2 separate regions of the Homo sapiens genome follow, and region 1 is linked to region 2. Evidence: fine-mapped expression QTL. A gene starts in region 2. The other region holds a variant in brackets. All regions are shown on one strand. Distances are between the middles of the regions. Region 1 overlaps DIS3L2 (DIS3 like 3'-5' exoribonuclease 2). Region 2 holds the start of DIS3L2 (DIS3 like 3'-5' exoribonuclease 2).

What was found. PIP is the estimated chance that this variant, and not a neighbour inherited with it, causes the effect.
Region 1: its variant is fine-mapped to the expression of DIS3L2 in lung (TOPMed, PIP 0.95).

The regions. Positions count from the first base shown.
Region 1 is chr2:232,232,096-232,241,703 of GRCh38, reverse strand. DIS3L2 (DIS3 like 3'-5' exoribonuclease 2) reads right to left here. Exons shown (of 21, transcript NM_152383.5): 11 at 3,059-3,171. Among named protein-coding and RNA genes, the nearest start is that of MIR562, 64 kb to the right of the region's middle. The variant C/T (reference allele first, on the strand shown) is at 5,300.
Region 2 is chr2:231,956,470-231,966,077 of GRCh38, reverse strand. It overlaps DIS3L2 (DIS3 like 3'-5' exoribonuclease 2), which reads right to left and starts at 4,365. Exons shown (of 21, transcript NM_152383.5): 1 at 4,313-4,365. RefSeq lists a silencer at 4,108-4,267 and an enhancer at 4,398-4,487.

The sequences.
Region 1 (9,608 bases), 280 kb before region 2:
AAATTCAGGTGGGCAGGTGTCCCCTATCTAACGGAATCATCTTTTGTCAAAAAGTTTTTTCCTGATATTTAAATGGACACTACCTAAATTTATATTTCCACCTGATTATACCCTATTGTTAACAAGAATAACCAAATACTTATTACTGTGAGCAAAATCTCAACAAAAAGAATTTCATTTAAAGTCAGTGAGGTGGTATTTGGACCCAAGACCTGTTACACTGTATACTGTCCTACTCCATGGGTTAATCCCCCAATTAGAGTTTAGATAAGGAGCTAAGATTGCAGTTCTGGCATCAGTCACTTACAGATCTGAATGAAATCAGTGCCACATTCCCTATAGATGGGAAATGAACTGGAACCCCAGCCCCCCTTCCCCTGTGTGATGAAGCTGGGAGAAATGATTGTGCCAAGTGAGAAAGCAGAGAATCTGGAGGGCGGAAACACAGCTCATCCAGCTTTTCAGAAGACCTTTATAGGCAAAGTAAAGTGAAAACAGCAGAAAAGTTCCTGGACACAGTCCTTTAAGAAACAAAACCGAGTAGGAAGAAAGGTCAGAGCAGCGGTTCAAAGGAATCAGAGCGCACAGCTGCTGCTGTCCAAGGTTGCGGGCCGGCGCCACTTGTGCCTGCCAAGCTGGAGGCAGTGCCGGGCAGCAGAGGCGTGCGGGCCCTTCCTCCACCCAGCTCCCCACTTTCACAACTCAGCAGCAGAGCCCCAACTCTGTAGTCCCACAGAGAAATTCTAGAACTGTGACAAACACAAAACCAAAGGAAACAGAAAAGGAAACATGCTTAATTACTTAACCCAATTTGATTTTTTCATTTTCTGATTTTGAAAAGTAATTCCTGGTTATAAAAGGAGAGCGCAGCAGCTAGTGCATGGCCGTGGCTTCATGGCCATGGGGGTCAGGGAGGAAGCCCCATGTACTCAAGAGAGATACTTGTGGGTCAGAAGTTTGCACTGCATTCTCTTAAGCTGCCTATACCTGCTCAGAGCTTGGACTCAGGTGTCATAGACATTGTGAGGGGTCGGGGGGCAAAGAGAAGTTCTTAAACATTGCATTTAGGCTTAGGCCAGCCACAGAGGTCAGGGAGGGACACAGTACGTTTGACACAAGCAAAGTCTGGTACGGAATTCCCCCTGCTCAGATGAGGACACAGCTAACTATTCTCACTAATTGGTCACTGAAGGTGCTGGGTCTTTCAGGCATCACTGTGCATTGAGATTACCTATTGCCCATGACACAGTTACCTGGAATGGGGTTTTGATGATCACACAGCTTCTGACTCAGAATTTCCTGGCTCTGATCAACTCTGTCTTCCTCTCTATTCACTATTCTCACTTCTGGGATGGCAGAAAACACGTACATGGTGGTTCTGATCACCTAATGTGAATGGTAGGCAAAGCTGTACTTCTGAAGAAATCGGCTGTACAAGTCTCCTGGAGCAGGTGGAGCTAGGGTTTTGCTCAAATATTCTAGGTTTCAGTGATCCAGAGAGTACTGTCCTGGGGCAGGGGAGAGGAGGTGCCAGGTCTTCCTAGGTAGGGCCTCCACATATTGAAGGCGGCTATGGCAGATAACAGCTCTGGCTTTCCTTTGGGACAAGAGAGCCCATCTAGGCTAGCTCCCTTTGTAGCAGGAGCAAAGGGTCTCAGACAAGGTGATTTCCACCATGGGGTGGAAGACATCACTGTCAACTGATAAGCTCAGCTACACTGGGGGAACTAAACTTGGGCCACAGGCAACAGGATCTTCAGCCCCTAGAGGATATGGCTGCACTCAAAGCCTAGACTGGTCTCTTCCCTTTTGAGAGGTTAGTTTTCAGGGTGGACAAGTTGAAAACATGAGAGGAACTCTCAGTAACACTTGGTAAATACCAGAAATCCTAGAAACTTTTGGGCTTTCCTGGATAGCTTTTGCTCCAGAAGTGCCAATACCTTTGTGAACATCAAGTAGGCACTTTGCTAGAAGTGGAGCCCAGAAATTCTAGAATGCACCTGTGGTGCTGCATTCTAGGGTGGATGGTGGGGATATTCCTCTGACCTTAGGGCAGTCAATGAGCAAATACCAGAATCATGTCCTAGGGCATGGGCTTGGGAGGCAGGAAGGCTCAAGCTAGTATAGGCAGAATCCCAAACTGGACTGCCAAATTTTAAAAAGCTAGAAAGGAAGTGGAAGTCCAGATATGGCCGAAGAAGGAAGATGAGCAAATGAGCAGAGGATCAGAGAAGGGAAAGAAGAGAAAGAAACCTGGCAGAATTCATGAACCACAGTGTGGAGGGCAGAACTTACTCATGCTTGGTCTCTTATTAACCCCTTTCTCTGAGGCCTACTGCAGTGACCATCAGATAATTGGTGCTCAATATATATGTGTTAAAGGAATGGATTCTCATGGTTACCTATTGAATGTGCCAGGTCCAAGTACACAGAATGGAAGGGATGTTTTGAGATGAATCTGTCCAGTCCCTTCATTTCACAGATGAGTCTAGGGAGGTCTGTAGACACTTAGTAACTAACCAAGAGTGGTGCAGTCAGGATGAGAGGGAAAAGCTCAGGCTCCTCCTTATCTCCCTTCGCTTTTCCATCTCGGAGACTCCCATAGCTATCTTGTAATGGGCAGGTCAGGACCAGATTGGCTCCCACCTTTTAGAACAGGGGTTGAAAACATTTCCTTAAAGGGCTTACAGTAATAGGAAATCGTCATGCCACTCTGCTGAAGTAGTGTGAAAGCAGCCACAATACATGAACAAATGCATGTGCCTGAGTTCCAATAAAACCTTACAAAAACTAGTCGCTAGTGTGGGCTGAGTTTGCCGAGCCCTGCTTTAGAACAATCGTTTGAAAGCAGGTATTTTGCCTCCTTTCTTTCTGAAGCTGAGTATCTGTCAGTTACTTATATAGCAGGGCCACTCTGGGATGAGGCCTCAGATGAACACCTGTGTCTTCCTTTGGCTTCTCTTTCCGGAGAACATGTAATAACAGAGAGCACACACTCTTCCAGGGAAACAAACAAATAAACAAAGCAAGAAAAAAGAAACTAGAGATGGATTTTTACCTTTTGAACCAAGTAGACGCTTGTAGCCCTCTCGGCAGCCACTTTATCCAGATCAGATCCCTCCGGAACAAAGTAACTCACGTCAGCAATGTGAACTCCCACTTTGAAGTTGCCTGTAAATGCACGAGAAGGACTATCAGGCTGGCGTGGAAGGCCACAGCATTCTCTCCCAGGAGTCCTTTCCTAGAATGTATGTCACTCCCAGAGGCCACAGGACCTGCAGTTAGGTGACACATCTAGTCTTGCTTGCTTCCTTCCTTGGCCACCTCCCTCTGTGACCCGCACTACTGTCACTTTCCTCATTGTATAGCAAAAGATGATGAAATTGTTCTTGTGAATAAACAAGATTAACCACTTTCCCAAGATGTTTCCCATTTCTAAAGGCTTCTTATCTTTGAGTAAACATAAGAAGATATGGCTCATTCTGGGTGATGAACAAATCCTTTTAGGTCACTAGAAGTGAATTAATCCCCAAATCCTACAGATGAAGCCTCTGAAAGCTCTGCCCTTCCTTCCCATTCCCTCTGGCCATTGCCCTATTTAGCCCACACCTGGCTGCCCTACCTCGCCTCTGTGCCCCCCTCACCTGGCCCTCCACACTTTGCTGTGATCTTTCTAAATGTGGGTCTGGGAAAGGTACTCTTAGCCTGTTATTCATGTCCTTACAGGGTCACACCCCAAGCAACCTCAGCCCCATCCTTCACATGCTCTGTATGTAGCTGTCATGGGAAACCTCTTTCCATTTCCTGAACAGATCTTCCCTCAAGCCATTTAGATGTTGGCTTGGCTCATACTTTTTCCTATGCTTGGGATAGTCTTAACAGGATCTGCCTATCAAAATCTTCCTTACTTTATTTGGGTCAACTGAAAGAGAATCCCCAAACAAGAAGAGGTTCCTCTACCCCCCTCCCACCATTTCCTCCACCTGTCTGTCTCCTCCAACTCCCCACCACCCCGCCCCCAACCATTTCCTCCATCTGCACTGTAAAGCACGTACTCCACACCTGTTGAGGCTTACCGTGGTCTTTCTTCAGAGCTCTCATCACTACCAGATATCACGGCATATCTCTATCGGCTTGTGTGTTTGTTATCTGTCTCTCTCCCTACCATGTAAGCTCCAGCAAATAAGGCCTTTTGTGTAATGTTCACTGTTACCCAAGGCCTGGAAGAGTACCTGGCACATAATAGGTCCTCAAGAAGTACTTGTTGAATGAATGAATCAACAGTCGGTCTGTCTTTTCCCTCTGGTAAAGGACCCACTTTCTTTTTCCTTTTAGAACTGCTCCTTCCCTTCCTGGTGGAGCTGTCTTTTAATAGGCCCTGCCCTCCCTACCAGGTTTACCAGAGAGTTGGTCAGGTGACCAAGGCTGTTAGAACTGTACCTTAAATGAGGGAGGGTAGTTAGGTTATAAACTTAAGATTTATTCTTGAACATACTGTAAATCACCTATCAAATATAGTGTATGTGAAAATAAAAATATACACATACATACAAGAGTATATACATACGTACATACATATACATGTATGTGTGTATGAAAATACAGAAAATGAACCAATTACAAAAAAAGAGTATACATGTAAAATAAGTATATAGGCTGGGCACGGTGGCTCATGCCTGTAATCCCAGCACTTTGGGAGGTCAAGGCTGGCGGATCACTTGAGGCCAGGAGTTTGAGACCAGCCTGGCCAACATGGCAAAACCCCATCTCTACTAAAAATAAAAATTAGCCAGGTGTGGTGGCACACACCTGTAGTCCCAGCTACTCAGGGGGCTGAGGCAGGAGAACTGCTTGAACCTTGGAGGCAGAGGTTGTAGTGAGCTGAGATTGTGCCACTGCACTTCAGCCTGGGCAACAGAGCAAGGCTTTGTCTCGAAAAAATAAAATAATAAAATAAAATAAGTATACAGTTTAAAGATATACAATGGGCAGAGAGAAGCACATGGAAGATACAAGCATAGTGCTGAATTTGCTTCAGTTGAACAATACAACTTGTTGTATTGATAAATGATATGAACTTCAGGAAAGAGGGTCTCTCTCCTGGGATCCTAGGCACTAAGGACCACATAAACCTGGAGCTGCCAGGAAACATCTATGCTACATAATCATGCCAATACAGAAAATAATAGTCTAAGAAAGAAAAGAAGAATTATGACCTCATTTGAACTTCAGGATCCAGCTGAGCCTGAAACTAGTCTACCTGTGGACTTGGCAGTTAATGAGTGGATCAATTCCCTTT[C/T]CATTATGACTCACTGACAGAGTCTTGACTCATACCCAAGTTGGCTTAGAAGAACTTATTAACACAGTACCATCTGCTCTTTTGGTAACCTGAATGATCAGTCCTAAGGTATCACACATTTTATCTGCAAACTGTGTAGCTACTTATTATCCTCCTACTCCTTCACTGGGGGATAATTCTTCCCTCAGTTTTTAAAATGGAAAAATGCTTAAACGTGGGATGCTTGAAAAAAGGGGTTCAGGCAAGGAAAAGAATTTAAGATTCCCTATTCTTCATCTGGTGTGACACTCAGAGACCACCTTCCTACAGGGCATTCTTCAGGTTTTTCCGCCCAATCCTGTAGCTGTAATACATAAAGGAATACTTAAGTCCACTTAAGAGATCCTGGCTGCTATGGGGTAACATAACAGATCTGTTTCCCACAGAGGAGAGGGCTGTCTGGAAAGCTGAGAGGAACCAGCATGACTCCAAGCTTAGCTGCCTCATTCTGACAGGCACGCAGCTGTGTCGCTGGGTCACTGGGAGCAGTGAAACCTGCCCTGCGATCGAGGAACTGAACTTTATGTGAATTCAGCCAAGAGTCTCAGATGGCTCAACTTCCAGTTTTGATATTTCAAGTATCTAAAACCAACACTTAGAGAAGGTAAAATAAAGTGTCTTCTTTTGAAGTCAGCATTATAATATATTGGCCTAACAGGTAAATATTGACTGAAGGACAAAAGAGAGGATTATTACATCATGATATAAACCATAATTTTAAATTCAGTCTCTGTGTTACTGCACATGAACTTTCTGTCCTTAGTCAAAATTGACAAACTGACAAAGAGTTCATTACAGGAGATAAAATATGAAGAAGGCCAATCAAAACATATTCAAGAGGCTTAAATTTCATTCAGAATTCCCAGCAGAGCCTCTGAAACCAGCAAAGAGAAGCTCTCTTATTCTCTGCTTTGGATCTTTTTTATGGAAACCCTAAGTAAATATTTTATTATATATGTTTACATAATGTGAACTTGCAGAACTCTTGAGGTGGTGGCACTGAACTTTTTATTCTATGAAAGAGAAACTATAAATCCAAAAGTCACATGGCATATGCTGCCAAAATGTTTAAGACAAATTTGATATTTTAAAAGATACTGGCTTTCATATGAAAGCATTCTTTTAAAATATTTTTAAATTTAAAACTTTCATCTGCCAGGGAGTAGGTGAGCCTGTGTGTTTAAAGAGCATTTAGAGCAGAGAGAGGAAGGATCCCCCGGGCAGCCGGGCCTGGCTCACTTTGCCTAGGGTCCACAAACTTAGATGAGTACAAACACTCCTTTGAATGAACCTGACGGGACATGAGAACTGCTTCATCCAATTAAAACATAGATTATAAAGCGGGATTCAGAAACCATCTCTTTGAAGCCAGCCTTCCAACCAGTGCAGCCACTTCCCCACAGTGTCCCTGCCAGGTGGCCCCTGCTATATCCTCAAGAGTGGGAAGCTGACATCTTCTTGAAGCCACCTGCTCTCTTTCTGAAGAGCTCTGGTAGGGGAAGTGCTTCCTCACATGGATCCTCTAGTTTATGCCCGCACTAGACATCTGTGAGTGGGGACCCATCCATTTAAGGAGCTCTCGGTCTAATGGGGCTCATACATACACCCGTGTGATAACTCAAGTATATGGCAGTAAGCTGAACTGCAATCAGTGAGGACATCTGAAAGTGTTTTGTGATCCATAACAACTACATAAATGTAACATAGACTATGATGATCATAAAAATAATAAAGACCTGTAATCCCAGCACTTTGGGAGGCTGAGGTTGGCGGATCACCTGAAGTCAGGAGTTCAAGACCAGCCTGGCCAACATGGGTGAAACCCCATCTCTACTAAAAAATACAAAAATTAGCCAAGTGTGGTGGCGCATGCCTGTAGTCCCAGCTACTTGGGAGGCTGAGGCAGGAGAATCACTCGAACCCGGGAGGTGGAGGTTGCAGTGAGCCAAGATCACACCACTGCACTCCACCCTGAGCAAGAGTGAGACTCCGTCTCAAGAAGAAGAAAAATAATAACAATAATAATACAGATAGCAGGAGTGAACATTTATTAAATGTCTCCTCTGTGCTAGGGGCTTCACACACAAGCTAACTTTGACTACAGCTATGCATATCGTTTTGCACAGATGAATTATCTGAGATGCAGAGAGTTTTTCAGTCACTTTTCCAGTTACTTGGCTAAAAAGTGAGAAATCCCAGATTCAAAACCAGGTTGGGTTCAGATCCTTTGCTCCTTTTATTACCCCTCGCCATAAACTGTCACTGCAACTCCAGAACAAGATGATACAACCCAATTTTTCATCTCAGTGGGCCACAGCTCAAAATCCCTCCCTATCTCTCATAACTCCAAGGAAGCCACATTCTCAGCTCTGGATTCAGAAGTCCTGGCAGAGACTCTTTCCAGCCATGTTCACTCCTGTCCCTGCAGGCTCTTTTGGTTCCCGTTGTCAGTCTCCTTAACCACTTGTAGCAGGGCCTGATTATAGAACAACCACTAAGCCATTAACTCCAGTTCTATTTAATTAGATGAACAAGCTCTTTAAAATCTAAACCACTCCTAAATTTCTAGCTTACAGTCATTTTTAGCTGGTAGTACAGAGACTGTCTGAACGACTCAAGAGGCCTGTGCCAGGAATGAGCACAACCAGGGTGGCCACCTACTATAGGTGGGGCCTTCCCTTACCAGCAGTGAGATAAGGCCTTCCAGACTTGGGTCACTTCATTCACTTTTACCCATTGCTGAGACTGGACAGTGGTCACAGTGGTGACAGAGGCTCTTCTTGACATCAGCAGGACACTCCTCACATAAAACAATATTATGTGTTGTGATAGATATTTGCTCCCCCCAGTCTCCCCACTCCCTGCCAATTCACAGGTTGAAATTCAATCCCCAATGTGATGGCATCAGGAGGCAGACCTCTGGGAGGTTATCAGGCCTCAGAGGTAGATCCCTCACAAATAGGATTAGTGCCTTATAAAAGGGACCCCAGACAGCTCTCTCATTCTTTCTACTATGTAAGGACGCAATGAGAAGGTGCTGTTCCATGAACCAGGAAGTGGGCCGTCACTAGACACTGGATCTGCCAGCATCTTGATCTTGGACTTCCCAGCCTCAAGGACTGTGAGGAATAAATCCGTTGTTTTAGTTCTTTATGCCACCTAGTCTACAGTATTCTGTTATAGCAGCCTGAATGGACTAAGGCACATGTGATGCCTGGAAAGCCTTTTAATATACTTCATCAGCAAAAAATAACTGCTTTGTCCAGGTCACTAATAACCTCTGTGCACTGAATCCAAACCTTTGTAGGCCTGACCTTATAGCAGCATCTGAAGCCTGGTGATTCTGTGCCCTCCCCACCCCAACACCTTGAGACACTCCTCCTTAGCTCTGGGCCCCACTCTGGGTGTCTAAGCTCCATGTCTGCTCCTCTTCAAGTTTCTCTGCCTCTCCGTGTCCCTTAAGTGTGGCGTGCCAAGCCTCCGTGCTCTGCCCCAGGCTGCCTTCTCTTCTAATTCTACCCCTTCTCTCTGGATTGTCTCATCTACTTCCAGGGATTCAAACCTCATTTCTGTGCTTTGGTCTTCTAATTGTATATCACCAGCCTAGACTTCTCTGAGCTTCAGATTGATGTATACAAAGTCTACTGAGAATTGTCACTCAGCTGTCCCACGGTCACATCACACTCATACCTCCATAAGCCCCTACTGGCAGCAAAACCATTTCTCTCCCTGTGTTTCCTGTCCCAGGAAGTGGGATCACCTCCACTAAACCAAAAGTGATACCCATGCTTGCCTAAACCAAAAAGAAACCTGGGACTTTCTCAGGCCTGTGTCGATCAATCATTCTGACTCTACCTTCCATACGTCTCTCACATCTGCCCATATGTCTTCCTTCCCACCACTGTCACCTTGGCCAAGACCACCATGGCTTCTTCTAAGAAATATCTAACAACCTCCTATTGCTCTCCCTGCCATTTCTCAAACTGATTTTCCATAGTGAAGACAGTGCCCTTTCCAAACACAAATCTGCCTGTCGCCTCACCATCTACACCCTCCAGAGGCCCTGCTGCCCTGAGCACGCAGCCCAGACCTGGCTTCTGTGGCCTGCCTGGCCTGGCTTTTGCCCACCCCTCCCATCCCATGGTCTTGTTTCTTCCACTCCTCCCCTGCACACCATCCTCTATCACCACTTCACAAGAAGCTGATACCAACCCAACTGCTCATCATGTGGGTCTGCTCTGTGCATGTTTTGACTTTCCTGGCCCTTATC
Region 2 (9,608 bases):
CCAGGCCCAGTTTTACTTTTACTCATGCTCAATAGCATTTCATGAAACTCCTTCTGTAAAACAAAAACTTTTTGAAGGATAAAATAAAAGGACAGGCTGGGCATGGTGGCTTACATCTATAATCCCAGAACTTCGGGAGGTTGAAGCAGGAGGATCGCCTGAGCCCAGAAGGTCGAGGCCACAGTAAGCCGTGATCTCACCACTGCACTCCAGCCAGGGCAACATGGACGTGGCATCAGAGGGTCTGCTTTGATTAGAGCACTGTTCTCTTCCTGTGCATCTTGTAGACATCAGTTAAAATGTCATTTCAGTGATTTCTCTAAAACACTTGTCACAGCCATAGTTTTGCATTTGTGTGATTATTTGAGTATCATCTGCTGAGGACAGAGATCATATGTGCATTCACTCTCCCCCATCTCCAAGGCCAAGCATAGTGCCTGGTACCAAGTAAGCACTCAAATATTATATTTGATGATTAAGTGAATAAATGAACACTAAGTCTATAAGAAAGCAACAAAACATCTTTTAAGAGGACTTAAAAGTTTGATCATCTTCACAAATGTATCTTTGGTGGATGCCCAAAGCAACTGAGTCCCCTTATTAAACATTAAACTCAAAAAAAAAAAAAAAGTCAATTCAGATGTCTACATAAATTGCTCTGGCCTTCAATGTCTCAAGGCAAATGCTGAGCATCAAAGGCTGATAGGCTAAACACACACACTCTCCTTATGTAAAGCATACCTACTGGTTGCTAAGTAACAGTTGTTTTTGGTAATTCCTGATACTACCGCTGCTACATAGGAAGCACTTCAGAAATACCAGTCAAATAAAAAAGAGCAACATTTCACAAGACTCTTGAGCATGAATGAAACAGTAACTACTTAAACTGTGGTGTTTCATATAAACCTAACACCAAATGCAGAAGCAAAGAAACTCTAAGTGGCAAAGCCCTCAGCTAGTAACTTCACTATTTTAGATGTCAAACAGGAAAAATGTCATATAGATTTGTACTAAGACTATTTGAAAGAAATAGGTCACAAATCAAGTGACCTGAAAGCATTAAATAAGAACTTCGAAATGCCACATGGAACTATTTCCCAAACTCTTAAGAATATAAGGAAAGGAATTAGGACTTCCTGTCCTCTCCAATACAAATACAAATTATATCTGTACTTTAGAGACAAATCAAGTCCCATTTAATCCAGAAATGATTTCTCCACCCTCTGACCTACTACAGCACTTAATATCCGTACCACATATTTTGCATTTAAACAAATGTCCATTTCATTGCTTTCCTAATAATTTCATGTGTGCACTTTTCTTTTATATCCTTTAAAGTGTATAATGCTGTAGATGCTTAATAAAGTTATTAAATTGGAATGAAATTATAGTTTTAAATGAATTTTGATATAGAAACTCCCACATTTTATTCCCAAATAATGTCATTTCCAAAAACGGTTCACACGCCTCAGTTTTAGCTCCATCATCATCAGATTAAAAATAAAGTCGTTATCCAACCATGTTCAAATAAGGCTTACAGTTTTCTTAGTACAGCTCATTCAAACTCAAATCAGGGGAGGTTTTCCAGTGCCATAGTGTCTTCTGAAGTGTAAGTCCATGCTATTAACAACACCTGCTCCTACTTTCTTCAATGTAGCAAATTTCACTTGAAATATTTCTCAAACCTCAAACCTAGTCAGTCCCGGGAAGATTTCCTTCTGCAGAAAACTTGTAAGCACAAAAATCTAAGCTACAGAATATACTAACCACACCTCACTCACAACTGGGAAGCAAATTCCCCAGAAAAGGATCAGTTCAAGATGTACAATTAAATGAGTCTCACACCTATAGAACAATGGAACAGAACAGAAAACTCAGAAATAAAGCCACACACCTACAACCATATGATCTTCAACAAACTGACAAAAAACAAATGGAGAAGGGACTCCCTATTCAATAAATGGTGCTGGGATAACTAACTAGCCACATGCAGAAGATATAAAACTGTATATATTTCATGATATACATAATGGGTTAAAGATTTAAATGCAAAGACCTCAGTCAGGCACAGTAGCTCATGCCTGTAATTCCAGCACTTTGGGCAACTGAGGCAGGCAGATCTTTTGAGCCTAGGAGTCAGAGACCAGCCTGACAACATGGTAAAAACCACATCTCCATAAAAAATACAAAAATTAGCCGAACGTGGTAGTGCGCACCTGTAGTCTCAGCTACTCGGGAGGCTGAGGTGGGAGGATCACTTGAGCCTGGGAAATCGAGGCTGCAGTGAGCTGCAGTCACGCTACTGCACTCCAGCCTGGGTGACAGTGAGACCCTGTCTCAAAATAAAATAAAAGACCTCAAGCTATAAAAATCCTAGAAGAAAACCCAGGAAATACACTTCTTGACACTGACCTTGGCAAATTTTTGGCTAAGTCCCCATAAGCAACTGCAGCAAAAACAAAAATTGACAAGTTGGAACTAATTAAACTAGAGCTTCTGCACAGCAAAAGAAATTATCAACAGATTAAACAGACAACCTACAAAATGGGCGAGAATATTCACAAACTATGCATCTGACAAAGGTCCAATATCCAGAATCCCTATGGAACTTAAATCAACAAGCAAAAAACAAATAAGCCCATTTTTAAAAATGGCCAAAGGACATGAACACTTCTCAGAAGAAATACAAAAAGAAAAAACCACGACATACAAGCAGCCAACAAATATATGGAAAACATGATCATGACTAATTATCAGAGAAATGCCAATCAAAACCACAATGAAATACCATCTCACACCAGTCAGAATGGCTATTATCAAAAAGTCAAAAAACAACAGATCCTCATTAGGCTCCCTTGGAAAGGGAACATTTAAACTACTGTTGGTGGGAATGTAAATTAGTTCAGCCACTGTGGAAAGCAGTTTGGAGATTTCTCAAAGAACTTAAAGAGCCACCATTTCACCCAGCAATCCCACTGTTGGGTATATAACCAAAGGAAAACAGACCATTATACCAAAAAGACATATGCAGTTGTATGTTCACGGCTGAGCTATTCACAATAGCAAACACACGGAATCAACCTAGGTGACCATCAATGGTGGACTGGAAAAAAAAAATGTGGATGTACAGGATGGAATACTATGCAGCCACAAAAAAGGAAGATATCATGTCCTTTACAGCAGCACAGATGGAGCTGGAGGCCATAATCCTAAACGAATTAGCACAAGAACAGAAAACTAAACACCACACGTTCTCACTTATAAGTGGGAGCTAAACATTGAGCACACTTACAAGTGGGAGTAGAAACATTGAGCGCACATGGACATAAACATGGGAACAGTCGGCCGGGTGCGGTGGCTCACGCCTGTAATCCTAGCACTTTGGGAGGCCAAGGCGGGCGGATCACGAGGTCAAGAGATCGAGACCATCCTGACTAACATGGTGAAACCCCGTCTCTACTAAAAATACAAAAAAATTAGCCGGGCGGGGTGGCGGGCGCCTGTAGTCCCAGCTACTCGGGAGGCTGAGGCAGAAGAATGGCATGAACCCAGGAGGCGGAGCTTGCAGTGAGCCGAATCGCGCCACTGCACTCCAGCCTGGGCGACAGAATGAGACTCCGTCTCAAAAAAAAAAAAAAAAGGTAACGGTAGACACTGTAGACTACTGGAAGGAGGGGAGAGATGGGGGATGTGGGTTGAAAAACTACCTACTGGGTTCTATGCTCAATACCTGGGTGCAATATACCCATGTGACTAACCTGCATGCGTATCCCCCATATCTAAAAGTTTATTAAAAAAAAAAACTCTCTATGATCAATAAAGGAGATAAAGTGTATCACTGTGGAAAGCGCAAACGTCAAGGACATGTTATAATTAAGCGGCTGCCCTTCAAGATTCCCGAGGCTCCCCATCCCTGCCAGTCCTGAACATCTCGATCAAGACCCTAGAGAACGCGTCCACAGGTGACCCGAGCCTCGGGAGGCGTCCTCTCTACAGCAACAGGCTCTAATTCTGGTCTCGCTCCCCTCACGCCATCCTAGGCTACAAGGGCCCCGGCGCTATAAGCGCGGCCTGGGAGGCCGGGTCGGTCAGGAGCGGAGAGTGGGGAGCTGGGGACATTGAGGGAGATGCGGGACAGGGAAGACGCGTGGGCCGGGGAGCAACGCCAGAGGCGGAAGACGCTCGTCCCGGGCCGCCACCACAGGTGCCGGGCGAAGCGCCGCGGAGCCCCCCAGAGGCCAGACCCCGGGTCGGTCCCGAGGGGGTCGTGCAGCACTAGGCGGTGCAGGGGGCAGGCGAGTGAGGGCCTCACCGTTTCTCCCCGGAGGCCGGCGCCGCCGCAGTCCCGCAGTTGCTAAGGAGAATGCTCTTCCGGGTCACGGGCGCGGCGTTCTAGAGAGCGACGGTGGCCGGGCGAGGCCGAGAGCGAAGCGCGCGGGGTGTGTGCGCGGTGCAGGAGCTCGTAGTCGGCGGTTCAGCTGCGACAAGGGCGAAATGGCCAGGCCAGGGGCCGCCGCGCCTTCTCCGGCCTCGCTCGCGGGGACAACTGGCTGCAACGGTTGGCTCCCAGTGGGCGGCCTCTGAGACGCCTTGTGCCAGGCGCCGGCTGGCTCCGGGCCCCTCTTCCACCGGAAGGAGCCTTCCAGACCCGGCTCCTGAACCTCCAGGCTCTGCTCCACTGGGCCAGGTCTTGCACGGCAGACGCCGCCGGCCCCTTTCCTGTTACAAGGCTTTGCTCATTCTTTCATTTACTCACTGCTCATTTATTGGACAACTGCTTGGGGCGAGGTGCAGTGCTGGCACTGGGGATACAGAGATGGACAACCCCCGCATGGTCCCTGCCCTCAGGATGTGAGGCTGATGGCAGAGCAAGCAGATGACGTCCTGCACGTGGGGATGATCGAAGGAAAGGAGACTAGGGGAGCCTGCCCAAGGGGCCCACCCAGACACGGGTGGGGAGCAGCTGATGTTGGAGACGTCGACCTAGTATAAAGGGTTGGGAAGAGGGTTTCAGGTGAGAGAGGAAGCGCAGCCGAGAAAGCCCCCGACAGTTCAGCCCGCCCAGGGAAGCGTGTTGAGAGGAAACAATCGTTAAGTACGGGACCTAGGAAACACCAATATTGTAGATGTGAGCAAAGGAAAAGGAAATCCAAAGAGCAGCCAGAACGTTCGGGAGAGCACAAGAGGAAAGAATGCCAGTGAGGGGATGGCCGCCATTCTCAAGCTATGGAGATCAAGTGTCCATTGGTGACCATAGAAAAATCAAACTTCCCTTTGGGAGGCCGAGGCGGGCGGATCACCTGAGGTCGGGAGTTCGAGACCAGCCTGATCAACATGGAGAAACCCCGTCCCTATTAAAAATAATAAATTAGCCAGACGTGGTGGCACATGCCTGTAATCCCAGCTACTCAGGAGGCTGAGGCTGGTGAATCGCTTTAACCCCGGAGGCGGAGGTTGCAGTGAGCCGAGATCGCACCATTGCACTCCAGAAAAAAAAAAAGAGAGAGGGAAGGAAAGACGGGAGGGCAGGGCAGGGTAGGGATCAAACTTCGGGAATACAATGTGGACAGATGCTTGAACCACCGTATGCTCCATATTGAAAAAGGAAAAGAGATGCATTAAATTGTGCCTATATTTCTCTTTTTTTTTTTTTTTTTTTTTTTGAGACGGACTATCGCTCTGTCGCCCAGGCTGGAGTGCAATGGTGCGATCTCGGCTCACTGCAACCTCCGCCTCCTGGGTTCAAGCAGTTCTCCTGCCTCAGTCCCGAGTAGCTGGGACTACAGGCGCGTGCCACCACTCTCGGCTAATTTTTGTATTTTTAGTAGAGACGGGGTTTCACCGTGTTAGCCAGGATGGTCTCACTCTTCCGCCCATCTTGTCCCAAAGTGCTGGGATTACAGGTGTGAGTCACCGCACCCGGCCAGTGCGTTGCAGTAGTCTAAGAAAATTCAGGGTTTCCCTTAGTAACTATGAGCTCCATGAAGGTGGAAAACTTTGCATCTGCAGTACCTGCCACACACACAGGCCTCAATCGATGTTTGCTTAAAGACTAAATGAACCCAAGGAACCTTTGTTTTTTAATGTTCACACAGACCTTTCTAGAACCCTCAGGAAAACTGTGATTTCAGCAAAACTTGTCTTTGAAATGTAGAGGGTAGAGGAAACCCAGCAAGGACAGGAGGCAGAGGGTGTCAGGCATCCAGGGATTCAGTGGATAGGAGAGGGGCCAGTGGGGACAGGAAGGGGAAGACCTAGAAGAGGAAGAGAACAAAGGATTGAAATAAAATCTGTGGCCGGATGCAGTGGCTCATGACTATAATCCCAGCACTTTGGGAGGCCAAGGCGGGCTGATCACTTGAGGTCAGGAGTTCGAGACCAGCCTGGCCAACATGGTGAAAACCTGTCTCTACTAAAAATACAAAAAATTAGCCAGGCATGGTGGTGGGGGCCTGTAGCCTCAGCTACTCGGGAGGCTGAGGCAGGAGAACTGCTTGAACCTGGGAGGTGGAGGTTGCAGTGAGCCTAGATCGGGCTACTGCACTCCAGCCTGGGAGACAGAGCAAGACTCCGTCTCAAAAAATAAAAAAATAAAAAGAAAACCTGAGATTTCAGGACTAGAAATAGGAGGTGAAGCCAAGGAAACCAAAAATAATTAAAAGTAGGAATAGAGAATCAAGGACAAGAGCAGAGGAAGTAGGGCTGAGACCATTATTTTCCTTAAGTTCAACGGACAAATCTCATTTTGATTGGTCGTTTGTCAAAGTGTGCTGCCTGCCTTTGTATAGGCTACAGGGCTAGGGTGGACATATCACTGTGCCCTCTTTTTTTTTTGTGGGGGTCGGGGGATGAAGTCTCACTCTGTCGCCAGGCTGGAGTGGAGTGGTGCAATCTCGGCTCACGAGGCACATCCCACCACACCCAGCTAATTTTTGCATTTTTAGTAGAGACGGGGTTTCACCATGTTGGCCAGGATGGTCTCGATCTCTTGGCCTCGTGATCCGCCCACCTCGGCCTCCCAAAGTGCTGGGGTTACAGGCGTGAGCCACAGCGCCCAGCGCACTGTGCCCTCTTAAGTGATGTGAGCCCTGGCTTCCTCACGTGGGCTAAAGGAAGATCACAACACACTCTGGAGTAGACTTGCGGCAAGAGGCTTATCCCACTAGCATATGTTCGTTCAGTCCATTACTTCAGTATGTTCCTATTGAAACAAGTATTACAATAAGCTCCCTGAAAAGAGATAGAAGTAATATTCTCTGAAAGACAACAGATCTCTCCATAACAGATGTGACAGGTTATCTGTGTCAGAAAACCAATAAATTCAAAATGTATGGCTGAAGAATTTAGAAACACCAAAATATGGGTCAAGTGGGCTATCTTGGTCCTTTAGGAGTGCTATAACACAATACCATAGATTGAGTGGCTTATGAACAACAGAAATTTGTTTATCGTGGTTCTAAAAGCTGTGAAGTCCAAGATCAAGGCACTAGCAGATTCCATCTCTGGCGAACCATTTCCTGGTTCATAGATGGCCTTCTTGTCCTGTTGTGACGTGATAGGAAGAAGGCTAGCTAGCTGGCCTCTCACAGGCCTCTTCTTAGAAGAACACTAATCCCATTAGTAAGAACTCCACTCTCATGACCCAAGTACTTCCCAAAGCCCCCACCTCCAAATACCATCACACTGGGATTAGGGTTTCAACATATGAACTTTGAAAGAACACAGACATTTAGTCCATAACAGTCTGTTATGAAGTCCAAGCCTTTCTGGAAGTTTAGGGCTTGTACACAGCTGTGGTTGCCCCAGAACCTCTCAGTCCCAGCCTGACCTGAATTCTTAGCAACCACCACCCCTAACCCAGCCTTCTGGACTAACATCTACTCAGTCACAAAAGCAGACACCATGGGGTCATCCCTGACTCCACTTTCCCTCATCACCACGCCCACACCCTAACAATCCAGTCCCTGAGCAGGTTCTGAGGATTGTCTCCTCCCCACCCAATTCCACTGCCACCAAGGACAGTGAAAGAAGCAAACAACCAAGCAACTCAGGGTCAATAACAAGTGTTGCAACCTCAGAGATGAGTCAAGGTGATAAAGGTGGGGTGTGTGTGTGTGAAAGTGTAATAACCAAATCAAACACCAAAACTCCAAGGAGATAAGATGGAATACATTCATTCAACATATTTTAGTTGCCTTTCACATGATAATTTTATCATAAAGGCAGTAAAAGATAATGAAAGGACTATTAAAAAGGGTAAAGAAAAACTAAGAATCAAACACATTCCAAGAACCAAAGTGAAGCAGGATTTGCTGGCCTTTTCGAGGCCCCAGTTCTGTTGAGGGATATGTTAAAGTGCCAGGAGCCTGGCCTTCACCAAGGCTGAGAGCGCCATGGTGAATAGAAAAGGTGTCTCACCATTCCCATATCTACTGTTTTTGGCGTCCTCAACTGCAACGACTACACCCATCCAGACCACTAATTCCAACATACAATTTTGGTCTGATTAAAGTCTATTTTTGCTCTTCTCTCAATTTAAACTTAATGTTTTTAAAAAATACATTTTCTTTTTTCTATATATAGTATTCTTTTTTCTCTTAAAATTTTTTTTTTTTTTTTTTGATACGGAGTCTTGCTCTGTCTCCAGGCTGGAGTGCAGTGGCGTGATCTCAGCTCACTGCAACCTCTGACTTCTGGGTTCAAGCGATTCTCCTGCTTCAGCCTCCCAAGTAGCTGGGACTACAGGTGCACACCACCATGCACAGCTAATTTTTGTATTTTTAGTAGAGACAGGGTTTCACCATGTTGGCCAGGATAGTCTGGATCTCTTGATCTAGTGATCCGCCTGCCTCAGCCTCCCAAAGTACTGGGACTACAGGCATAAGCCACCACGCCCAGCCTTAACTTTGAAAATCTAAATTCTATGAGAATATTTCTTTTTCTTTGGACTCTGAGGTCTTAGCTTAATTTCTCTTTTACCTTCTGGTTCCTATTTAAAATGTCATCTTTTTAAATATTTTACCTGTTAATTTTATTTTATTGGGATGTTATCAACATATTATGCTTAACTTTTTAGGTTTAATTTTTTTGTTTTGTTTTCTAGTGCTTTCCTATTTTCTTTTTTAATTTCATAAATGCTACTTTAAAAGTGGATTTTATGCTTGAACCCGGGAGGCAGAGATTGCAGTGAGCTGAGATTGTGCCATTGCACTTCAGCCTGGGAGACAGAGCAAGACTCTAAAAAAAAAATAAGAAATTAAAGTGGATTTTAGAAAATTCCCTGATTTACAGTGTTGCCCTATTCTTTCTACATTTTTATTCCCACGTTTTTAGCTTTAAATCTGTCTTAATTTTTATATTCTGTCATCATCCTATTTTATCTTTTCTTTCTCCTGTCTTCTATCTTGCATATTTTTTTCTGGTTTTGAAATTTCTCTTTTAATCACAGACACATCTCACCAGCTACAAGTGGCATCTAATAATTTTTACGCTTTAAAAGAGAAAAAAAGAATGGCATTCAATTCACAAAACCCAGAATGCTTGTACCTTTGTTTTGTTGGGGAATTCACTGAAGAGGGAGGTACAAGATTTTACTTTCTTCTGTACCT